Regions from separate parts of the Homo sapiens genome. Here region 2 is linked to region 1. The links come from fine-mapping of genetic effects on gene expression. A gene starts in region 1. The other region holds a variant in brackets. All regions are shown on one strand. Distances are between the middles of the regions. Region 1 holds the start of GSDMC (gasdermin C). Region 2 overlaps CYRIB (CYFIP related Rac1 interactor B).

Region 1 (5,388 bases):
AAACTAGATATCCACACGTAGAAGACTGAAACTAGACCCTTATCTCTCACTATATACAAGAACTAAATTAAAATAGATTAAATAATTGAATCTAAGGACTCAAATTATGAAACTACTACAATAAAACATTGGGGAAACTCTCCAGGACATTGGAATGGGCAAACATTTCTTGAGTAATACCCCACAAGCACAGGCAGCCAAAACAAAAATGGACAAATGCAACCATATCAAAGTAAAAAGCTTCCTTCCAGCAAAGAACAATCAACAACAGAAGAAGAAAACCCAAAGAATGGGAGAAAATATTTGCAAACTAAGCATCTGACAAAGGATTTGTAAGCAGAACACACAAGGAGCTCAAACAATTATACAGGAAAAAATCTAATAAACTAATTAAAATATGGGCAAAAGTTCTAAATAGACATTTCTTGAAAGACGACATACAAATGGCAAACACGCATATGAAAATGTGCTCGACATTATTGATCATCAGAGAAACACCATTCAAAACTACAATGAGATATCATCTCACATCTGTTAAAATGGATTTTACCCAAAAGACAGGCAATAACAGGCTGGAGAGGATGTGGAGAAAAGGGGACCCTTGGACACTGTTTGTGGGAATGTAAATTAGTACAACTACTATGGAGAACAGTTTGGGCCTTCCTCAGAAAAACTGAAAATAGAACTATCGTATGATCCAGCAAACCCACTGTTAAGTATATACCTCCAAAATAGGAAATCAATATATTGAAGAGATATCTGCACTCCCATGTTTATTGCAGTTCCACTCACAATAGCCAAGATTTAGAAGCAATCCAAGTGTCCATCAACAAATGAATGAATAAAAAAAATGGTACGTATACATAATGGAGTACTATTCAGCCATAAAAAGAATGAGATCCTGTCATTTGCAACAACATAGATGGAACTGGAGGTCATTATGTTAAGTGAAATAAGCCAAGCACAGAAAGACAAACTTTACATGTTCTCTCTTATTTGTGAAAGCTAAAAATTAAAACAACTGAACTTACGGAGATAGAGAATAGAATGATGGTTACCAGACGCTAGGAAGGGTAGTGGGGTGGGTGTGCAGGGGTAGGGGGAATGGTTAATGAGTACAAAAAGATTTAGAAGGAATAAGATCTAATGTCTGATAGCACAATATATTATTGACTATAGTCAATAATAATTTAATTGTACATTTAAAAATAACTAAAAGAGTATAATATTTTAACACAAAAAATAAATATCTGAGATGATAGATACCTCATTTACCCTGGTGTGATTATTATACATTGTATGCCTGTATTAAAATATCCCATATATCCCATAAATAAATATATACATCTATGTACCCATAAAAATTAAAGACAAAACAAAACTAAAAACTACAGCTTTGCACAAAGGCTATTGCAACCTTAAACAAAAAATACTTCTGCCAGGACATCTGTCCACCAACTGCCTGTCTAACCTTGGACTGGTGCCACCTTTGTTACTGATCCTTGTAAGCAAAGAATTGATTCAAAACAATTGTGTAATCCTTCTTATTTTTCTTTTTAAAACTTTTTTCTTCCCTTACCTGTCTGAATACACACATAGTTTGTGATGGCACGCATATTCCCATTGCAATGCTCATTCTTGAATAAATATCACTGTCTTTTAGAGAGCTTTTCTTTATCTGTTATTTAGGTTGGTGTGACTCACATAACTGTTCCCAAACAGCTAAGTTACTTTTCTCCGACTTCTGGAATACCCAATAGCAGGTTGGGGCCTATAGAATGTTGGTACACAGAAGGGTTATGTATGTAATTATAATTTTATATTTCAAGTCTATAGTTTTTACAATGGAAATTATAGAACGTGAAAGTTAATTTGGAACATCGTGTCTGGTGGTGATATGCAGAAAGCACAGTCTGAGCTTTGTCCCAAGTGAAGTGCATATCAGGTTCTTACAGTGGAAAGGGAAGGCATAAGACTTTTATGAATATTAAAAGAAAACAAAAGTAAAGTAAATGCATTGTGAAATACTGTCAGCTGAAAGGAATGTTGCTGTATTGAGTGTCAGTTCCAGGAAGTTACTCAAAACTTAAAGGTGTAGCAATCCTGTTTATACAGTTTCTGCTCCTATAGGCACTTTACTTCATCTTGAAACCCATAGGGAGTAATTGGAAAGGACATGGGTTTCAGGCAAGTTTTTAATTCCTTTCACAAATCCCCTTTTTATTTATATTTAAAATAAAGATTGTTGTAAGATTGGATTTAGATAATACATGCATGGTGCTTAACACAGAGGAGGCATTAAGCACAGTAATTCCTGTTGTACAGAGCCCCACATGTAGGCAGTTCAGAGGTGCTTCCCAGGGCCCTGGCGCTAGTGCCTGTCCCTCCTGCTGAAGTTGCCTTTCCTGGTGTCCAGTGATTGAATTCTAAATTCAGCACATATACCAGAGGAATACGAGCCAAAGAAGTTGTTCCAGCTAGAGTTGCTGGGAATCCATGAATCAAAGACTTGCTCAGCTAGTTCTGTATGTGAAAGGAAATGGGTGTGACTCTGAGGAAGCCTTTTTAATTCTGATTCAGGAGATACATAATTAGATGCCACTTGATTTTGTTCCACAGACTTTTTGCTGAGGACTTGAGAGCTAAGGTTCTGTGATCCAGAACTAGTTCCAGACTTACTCTTCTGGAAATGAACAGGGCCCTCCTGTGCTTATTTTTCCAGGATACTGCATTGGAAATTGAGTCAGGGACCCATTGGTGAGAAGAGAACAGTGAACAGAATCACATTGATCTGGTCCTGGAGTTTGTCTGACAATTTCTACTTGACCGCAGGAGGTCTGAAGATTGGAAGGGGCCCTACTCAATTGTGCTATTTTTCTCTCTTTTTTTTTTTTTTGAGACGGAGTTGCCCAGGCTGGAGTGCAGCGGCATGGTCTCAGCTCACTGCAACCTCTGCCTCCCGGGTTCAAGCAGTTCTCTGCCTCAGCCTCCCAAGTAGCTGGGATTACAGGTGCCTGCCACCATTCCTGGCTAATTTTTGTATTTTCAGTAGAGACAGGGTTTCACCATCTTGGCCTGGCTGATCTTGAACTCCTGACCTCGTGATCCACCGGCCTCAGCCTCCCAAAGTGCTGGGATTACAGACGTGAGCCACCGTGCCCGGCCAATCCTGCTATTTCTCTACAGGACAAAGGGATATATAATCTGGTAAGTCCTAATGGGATCAGGGGATGAAAAAGAAAAGATTACTATCATCAGCGACAAAAATGTTCTGGATGGGTTTGTGAAATGAGTCGAAGAGTTTTTTTTCCTACAGAATTTGACTGAAAAGGAAGTTAAGTTCGTCTTAATAATGGAGAATTCCTGATAGCATGTAAGGCTAAGGAATATATCTTCGATACATTATTGCACAGGTCCAGTCTTAAAGAAGCATCTTATATTCTCATTATTCTCTGCTTGTCCAGTGACCTCTTACATGGCCCATATCAGAGAATTGAAATGGTCACATCAGGAATTTTACATGAACTGTTGAAAATTCTGTCTCTCTTCATTATTGAACATATTTAGAAAGTTCAAAAACTGAATTCCATGTAGTTAGGAAGTCCTATTCCTATTTGTTATAATTGTAACAATACAATTATACTCTTAATTGTAACAATACAATTATACTGTTTTAGTTATTTCTAACTGTACAATTATTGACTATAGTCACCCTGTTGTGCTATCGAATACTAGATCTTATTCAGAAATACTAGATCTTATTCAGTCTAACTATTTTTTTTGTGCTCATTTACCATCCCCACCTCCCTCCCACCCCCTAATATCTTTCCCAGCCTCTGGTAACCATCATTTTACTCTATCTCCATAACTTCAATTGTCTTAATTTTTAGCTTTCATAAATAAGTGAGAACATTGTAAAGTTTGTCTTTCTGTGCCTGGCTTATTTCACTTAATGACCTCTAGTCCCCTCTATGTTGTTGCGAATGACAGGATCTCATTTTTTTTTGACACGGAGTTTTGCTCTTGTTGCCCAGGCTGGAGTGCAACAGTGCAATCTCGACTCACTGCAACCTCCGCCTCCTGGGTTCAAGTGATTCTCCTGCCTCAGCCTCCCAAGTAGCTGGGATTACAGTCATGCGCTACCATGCCTGGCTAATTTTGTATTTTTAGTAGAGCGGGGTTTCTCCATGTTGGTCAGGCTGGTCTTGAACTCCTGACCTCAGTTGATCCACCCGCCTCAGCCTCCCAAAGTGCTGGGATTACAGGCATGAGCCACCGCACCCAGCCAATCTCATTCTTTTTTATGGCTGAGTAGTACTCTGTTATGTATATGTACCACATTTTGTTTACCTGTTCATTTGTTGATGGACACTTGCATTGCTTCCCAATCTTGGCTATTGTGAACAGTGCTGCAACAAACATGGGAGTGAAGATATCTCTTCAATATACTGGTTTTCTTTCTTTTGGGTGTACACCCAGCAGAGAGGTTGCTGGGTTGTATGGCAGCTCTATTTTTAGCTTTTTGAGGAAGGTCCAAACTGTTCTCCATAGTGGCTGTACTAATTTACATTCCCACAAACAGGGTACAAGTTTCCCTTTTCTCTACCTTCTCTCCAGCATTTTTTATTACTTGTCTTTTAGATATAAGCCATTTTAACAGGGGTGAGATGATATCTCATTGTAGTTTTGATTTACATTTTTCTGATAACTAATAATGTTGAGGACCTTTTCATATGCCTTTTTTTCATTTGTATGTATTCCTCTGAGAAATGTTTATTCAACTCTTTTGCCCATATTTTAATCTGATTATTAGATTTTTTTCCTATAGAGTTGTGTGGGCTCCTTATATTTTCTGGTTATTATTCCCTTATCAGATGGGAAGTTTGCAAATATTTTCTCCCATTCTGTGGGTTCTCTTTTTCTGTTGTTGATCTTTTCCTTTGCTGGAGGGAAGCTTTGTAACTTGATGAGATCCAATTTGTCTATTTTTGCTTTGGTTGCCTGTGCTGGTGGTGTATTACTTAAGAAATTTTTGCCTAGACCAATGTCCTGGAGAGTTTCCCCAGTGTTTTCCTGTAGTAGTTTCACAGTTTGAGGCTTTACATTGAAGTCTATAATCTATTTTGATTTTATTTTTGTACATGATGAGAGAGAGTGGTCTAGTTTCAGTCTCCTGCATATGAATATCCAGGTTTCCCAGCACCATTTATTGAAGAGACTGTCCTTTCTCTAATGTATGTTCTTGGCACCTTGGTAAAAAATGAGCTCACTGTAGGTATATGGATTTGTTTCTGGGTTCTCGATTTTTTTCCTTTGGTCTGTGTGTCTGTTTTCATGCCAGTACCATGCTGTTTTGGTTACTGTAGCTCTGTAGTATAATTTGATGTC
Region 2 (5,388 bases), 180 kb before region 1:
GCTGATTCCTATGGTGTAAATACTTCCACCATGACCAGTTTCAAGCTACCAACATGATGCCACTGAACACGGAGTTTGGAAGAAATGAACATGGTTAGGACTCTTGAGTCAGTATAGCCACCTTCAGAACACCACTGCCTTTGGCATTCATTTTATTTTAAACTCTGTTTGTTGTTGTTTTTTTATTTTTGAGGTAGGGCCTCGCTCTGTTGCCCAGGCTTGAGTGCAGTGAAGTGATTATGGGCCACTGCACTAATTTTTTAAAAAACACTCATGGATAATTTTTAAAAAAATTTATTTTTGTCTGTGCTTGGTGGCTTATGCCTGCAATCCCAGCATTTTGAGAAGCCAAGGTGGGAGGATCACTTGAGCTCAGGAGTTTAAGACCAGCCTGGGCAACATGGCGAAACCCTGTTTCTACAAAAAAAATATAAATTAGCTGGGTGTGGTGGTATGCACCTGTATTCCCAGCTACCTGGGAGGCTGAGGTGGGAGGATTGTTTGAACCCAGGTGGCAGTGAGCCAGAATTGGTCCTCTGCACTCCAGCCTGGGCCATGGAGTGAGGCCCTATCTAAAAATAATTAATTAAAAATTTAAAAATAAAGTAAAATTTATTTTTTATAGAGGCTGGTCTTGAATTCCTGGACTCAAGTGATCCTCCTGCCTTGGCCTCCCAAAGTGCTAGGATTACAGGCATGAGCCACTGCGCCTGGCCTTTTTTAAACTTTGATCTCTGGGTTTTGCATCCAGGTGTGGAATTTTTAAGAAGTAGTCATGTCATTAATGATATCACAGGGGCAAGAAGAGACAATGGGACAAGAGTGAGCTCTGCCTTTCTTCTTTTGTATTTAAAAACAAAACAACCTTTTGTGACTGTGGTTGGAGAAACAGGCATACTCATTCTACTACTGATGAGAGTGAAAATTAGTACAACTTCTTTGGAGGGCCATTTGGCACCATTCTGAGTGCACATACCCTCTGATCCTGCAATTCTGCTTCAAGGATTTTCTCTTATAAATTCTATGTTTCCTATAGTTATAAATGTGTGTGAAGATGCATGTAACATATACTCATTGCAGCATTGCTAGTAATAGAAAGACTGTGGAAGCAACTTAATGTATGTCAATAAGGAATTGATTTAGGCTGGGCGCATTGGCTCATGCCTATAATCAGCACTTTGGAAGCCGAGGTAGGCAGATCACTTGAGGCCAGGAGTTTGAGACCAGCCTGACCAACATGGTAGAAACTGTGTCTCTACCAAAAAATACAAAAATTAGCTGGGTGTTGTGGCCCACACCTGTATGTAATCCCAGTTACTCGGGAAGCCGACGTAGGAGAATAGCTTGAATCTGGGAGGCGGAGGCTGCAGTGAGCCGAGACTGCACCACTGCACTCCAGCCTCGGTGACAAGAGCAAGACTCTGCCTCAAAAAATGAACAAACAAAACTCCAAAAAACAAAAAGTAGCGAATTGATTGAATGTATATTCTTTTTTTTTTTTGAGACAGAGTCTTGCTCTGTCGCCCAGGCTGGAGTGCAGTGGCGCGATCTCAGCTCACTGCAAGCTCTGCCTCCTGGGTTCATGCCATTCTCCTGCCTCAGCCTCCCAAGTAGCTGGGACTACAGGCACCCACCACCACGCCCGGTTAATTTTTTGTATTTTTAGTAGAGACAGGGTTTCACCGTGTTAGCCAGGACGGTCTCGATCTCCTGACCTTGTGATCCGCCCGCCTCGGCCTCCCAAAGTGCTGGGATTACAGGCGTGAGCCACCGCGCCCGGCCTGAATGTATATTCTTAAAGTGGATTGCTCCGCCATTGTTTAAAATAGTAGGTCATATCTGCTAAGAAGGAATGATTTTCAGGATATATTCTTAAGTTTAAGAATAAAGCAATTTGCAGGAAAGTATATGTGGTATGCTGCCAGATGTAGGAAAACAAGAAGAGGGTATAAGTGTTTATACACACCCACCCACACACATACTCATGCTTGATTATGCCTGGGCGATTGCTGGAAGGACACACACACACACACACACACACACACACAGTGTCTGGGGGAATTCTGTATATCTCTTGGAAAAGCTTAGGGGATTGTGGGTCTTGGGTGGGTGGAAGATATCCTGCTATGTGTCCTTTTATGTTTCTTTGAATGTTTATAGAGGAGATTTGGCAGGTCCCCTTGGTGGGGTTGCATATGCCCCATGGGAAACCAACATTTATTGAGCATTTGCCAAGCAACAGGCAGTTCCCTGTGTTATCTGCTCACAGGTAAGACAGATCACACGGGTAAGGATGTGAGGAGGTGTCCTCACACATCCATAACACTGGAGTTCTCTCCATTGCCTGCTGATACCTGGACTACAGAGCTGCCCAGTAAATGTGTGATAAATGACAAATCTCATTTTCTTTTCCTTTTTCTTTATTTCTTTGGAGGCAGACTTTTGCTTGACTACCCAGGCTGAAGTGCAGTGGCACGATCACGGCTCACTGCAGCCTCGACCTCCCAGGCTCAGCCTCCTGAGTAGCTGGGACTACAGGCATGTGCCACCACGCCTGGCTCACTTTTTTCATTTTGTAGAGACAGGGGCCTCCCTATCTTGCCCAGGCTGGTCTTGAACTCCTGGGCTCAAGTGATCCTCCTGACTTGGCCTCCCAAAGTGCTGGGATTACAGGTGTGAGCCACTGTGCTTGGCCCGATAATC[C/G]CATTTTCAAGAAAATGGATGGTACCTTTGTTGTGCAAAGTCCTGTGGCATGCAGGTAGAGGAAGGGAAATTCCATGACGGCCTGCAAGGTGTTTTGGAAACGGGTAACCCAGCTGCTTCATAGAAATCTGAGTTATCTGAGAGGCATCTTAACTTCGTCTCTCCTGACACTAGTCCCTGGCACCTCTCTTGAGTCCACATGGAAGTATTCAGTCAGTACTAATTTTTCCAACTGTAAGATTCTTTGTTCTGGAAAGCTGTAGCTTGTGTTTCTGGACCACATGAATTGCTGATGTGTTTAGAAACAATAAAGGCAAGGAGAATTTGTCCTGCGATGTCCTCGTTTCCTGAATTATTTTATCTTTACAACTTTCCCGTTGAGTATGCATCATCAAAGGACTAAGAGACACCAGCTTCTGTTCACTTAAAAAGACTGACCTTTAGGGGCCTTTCTTCTCAAAACAGATGTTCCCAGAGGTGCTTTTTATTGTTGTTATTGTTGTTTTCTGCAATCAGCCACATTTCTAACCCATCAGGAAATGTTTTATAGAACCAGAGACTTTCTCTCTTCCCCTTCCCTTGATCATCTGGAAATAAATTCAGTAAGTAGGTTATTCATCTTGAAAGGGCTGTTTTGATGCTGTTGTGATGTGATCAGCACACAAATGGACAAGAAATCCAAATGGTCAAGAAGGATGGAATGAAAATTTAAGCGTATGGAATCAAAATCACAAAAACTGACCTGGGTAGTATTTAAGAGCGTTCCATTATCTGCACAATTCAGATGAAACACTTGCAAGTGAGAGTTATTTGACCTTAGCACTTTGCTGGTCTCTTGAGACAGTATTTTGTAGGCTCAGAGAGAGCTGTTAAGAGCTTTAAGTATCATCGCCCTTCTGTGCAACGTGGGATGTAATGGTTTTAGTTTACTGTAAGATGAATGTGAATCAACAGTGTTATCTGACTCCTCCAACTAGTAATTCCATCTTCACTGCCTGAATAGAGAGAGGGAATAGGTTTAATCGCCATTGCTCTGTGAGGCCTTCCTGGACCCAGGTGCTTTGCTGTGCTCATATTGCACTGTGTAGTATTTAATTAAAGCAGTTATCTTATTGGCTTTAAATAGCTGTAATTGTTTGTGGCTGTCTCCACATCAGCCTGTGAGTGCCTGGAAGGATGGTATGGATCACCTTGCTTCATCTGTGTATAGCCAGCATGCAGCATACACCACAGCACTTCGGATTTCATTAGTCAGGATTCTGTCGACCTTGAAACAGAATCTCGCCTCGAACTGGCTTCCGCAGAAAGGGGATTTGTTGGTTTATGTAATTGAAGAATCTAGGAGTGAAACATAAGGCCTGGAGGATCCAAGGCTTAAAGTGTTGCCAAGGCTTACACAGTTTTTCACCATCTTTAACGCTGCCTCCCTTTTCTTGTGGATTGTGGTCCAAAATGGTTGTCAGCGGTTCTAGCAGGAGGTAAAAAAAGGCCACTGTTCCAGTAGTTCAACAAGTCTTAGAACTGAGTCCAACTGTCTTTCTGATTGGTCTTTTCTGGGTAACATGCACAGCCCTGAACCAATCGCTGTGGCAGGCAAATGCGACGCTCTGATTGGCCATCTTGGATCAAATGCCCTCCCCCTGAGGGAGATTGGGTGCAGCTTGCACCTGCTCAGGTACAGAGACTGAGAATGAGGGAAAGATTGCAGGTTTCCAGGGAAATGCGGGTACCGTTTGTGAATGGTGGGTAGGCAAAAGCCAAGGATGTCCAATATAGTAGGTTTTTAATCAGTGTTTACTCAGTGAATGAATTAACAGATGAATGAGCAAACAGGAGCGTGCTGCTGATTCTGCGAGCTGGTTATGCAATACCCCGAGTGGGGTTTTAACAGATGGAGACTTTGCAGAGGGGAGGGATAGAAGAGGGCTCTGAAATCAAGTCATTTAAGGATACCATTAAATTAGCTGAAATATTTAACAAGAAATAGGAGACAGGGGAGACATATGATAGCTGTTTCCAAACGTAAAGGGCATTCATAGGGAAGGGACATTTTCTGGGTCCCTATTTTATGCCATAGATGCTGGGCTAGACACTTTAATTGACATCACCCCACGTTTATTTTTATTTTAATTTATGTTATTTCATTTTTTTGAGACAAGGCCTTGCTCTGTGGCCCAGGTTGGTGTGCAGTGGTATGATTCTAGCTTACTGCAGCCTCAGTCTCCCAGGCTCAAGCAATCATCCTGCCTCCCTCCTGAGTATCTGGGACTACAGGCACACATCACACCTAGCTAATTTTTTTTCTTTTTCTGTCCTTCTTTCTTTTGTTCTTTCTTTCTTTCTTTTTTTTTAAACAGGGTTTCACTCTGTTGCCCAGGCTGGAGTGCAGTGGCGCAATCATGGCTCACTGCAGCCTTGACTTCCCAGGCTCAGGTGATCCACCTCAGCCTCCCCGAGTAGCTGGGACCACAGGCAAGCAGCACCATGCGTGGCTAATTTTTTGTATGTTTAGAGAAGGGGTCTCCCATGTTGCTCAGGCTGGTCTTGAACTCTTGGGCTCAAGCCATCCTCCCACCTCGGCCTCCCAAAGTGCTGAGATTACAGGCACAAGCCACTGCATCTGGCCGCAATTAAAAAATTTTTATTTAATCTTGATAATTGTGTTTGTTAAAGAAACTAGCTCAG

Evidence for each region. PIP is the estimated chance that this variant, and not a neighbour inherited with it, causes the effect. A credible set is the group of variants that fine-mapping cannot tell apart.
Region 2: its variant is the best candidate, but not a certain one, in a credible set for the expression of GSDMC in spleen (GTEx, PIP 0.87).

The regions. Positions count from the first base shown.
Region 1 is chr8:129,783,830-129,789,217 of GRCh38, reverse strand. GSDMC (gasdermin C) reads left to right here and starts at 2,594. Exons shown (of 14, transcript NM_031415.3): 1 at 2,594-3,207.
Region 2 is chr8:129,961,909-129,967,296 of GRCh38, reverse strand. The region is part of intron 2 of CYRIB (CYFIP related Rac1 interactor B); the gene reads left to right. Among named protein-coding and RNA genes, the nearest start is that of MIR5194, 44 kb to the left of the region's middle. RefSeq lists a silencer at 4,448-4,648. The variant C/G (reference allele first, on the strand shown) is at 2,704.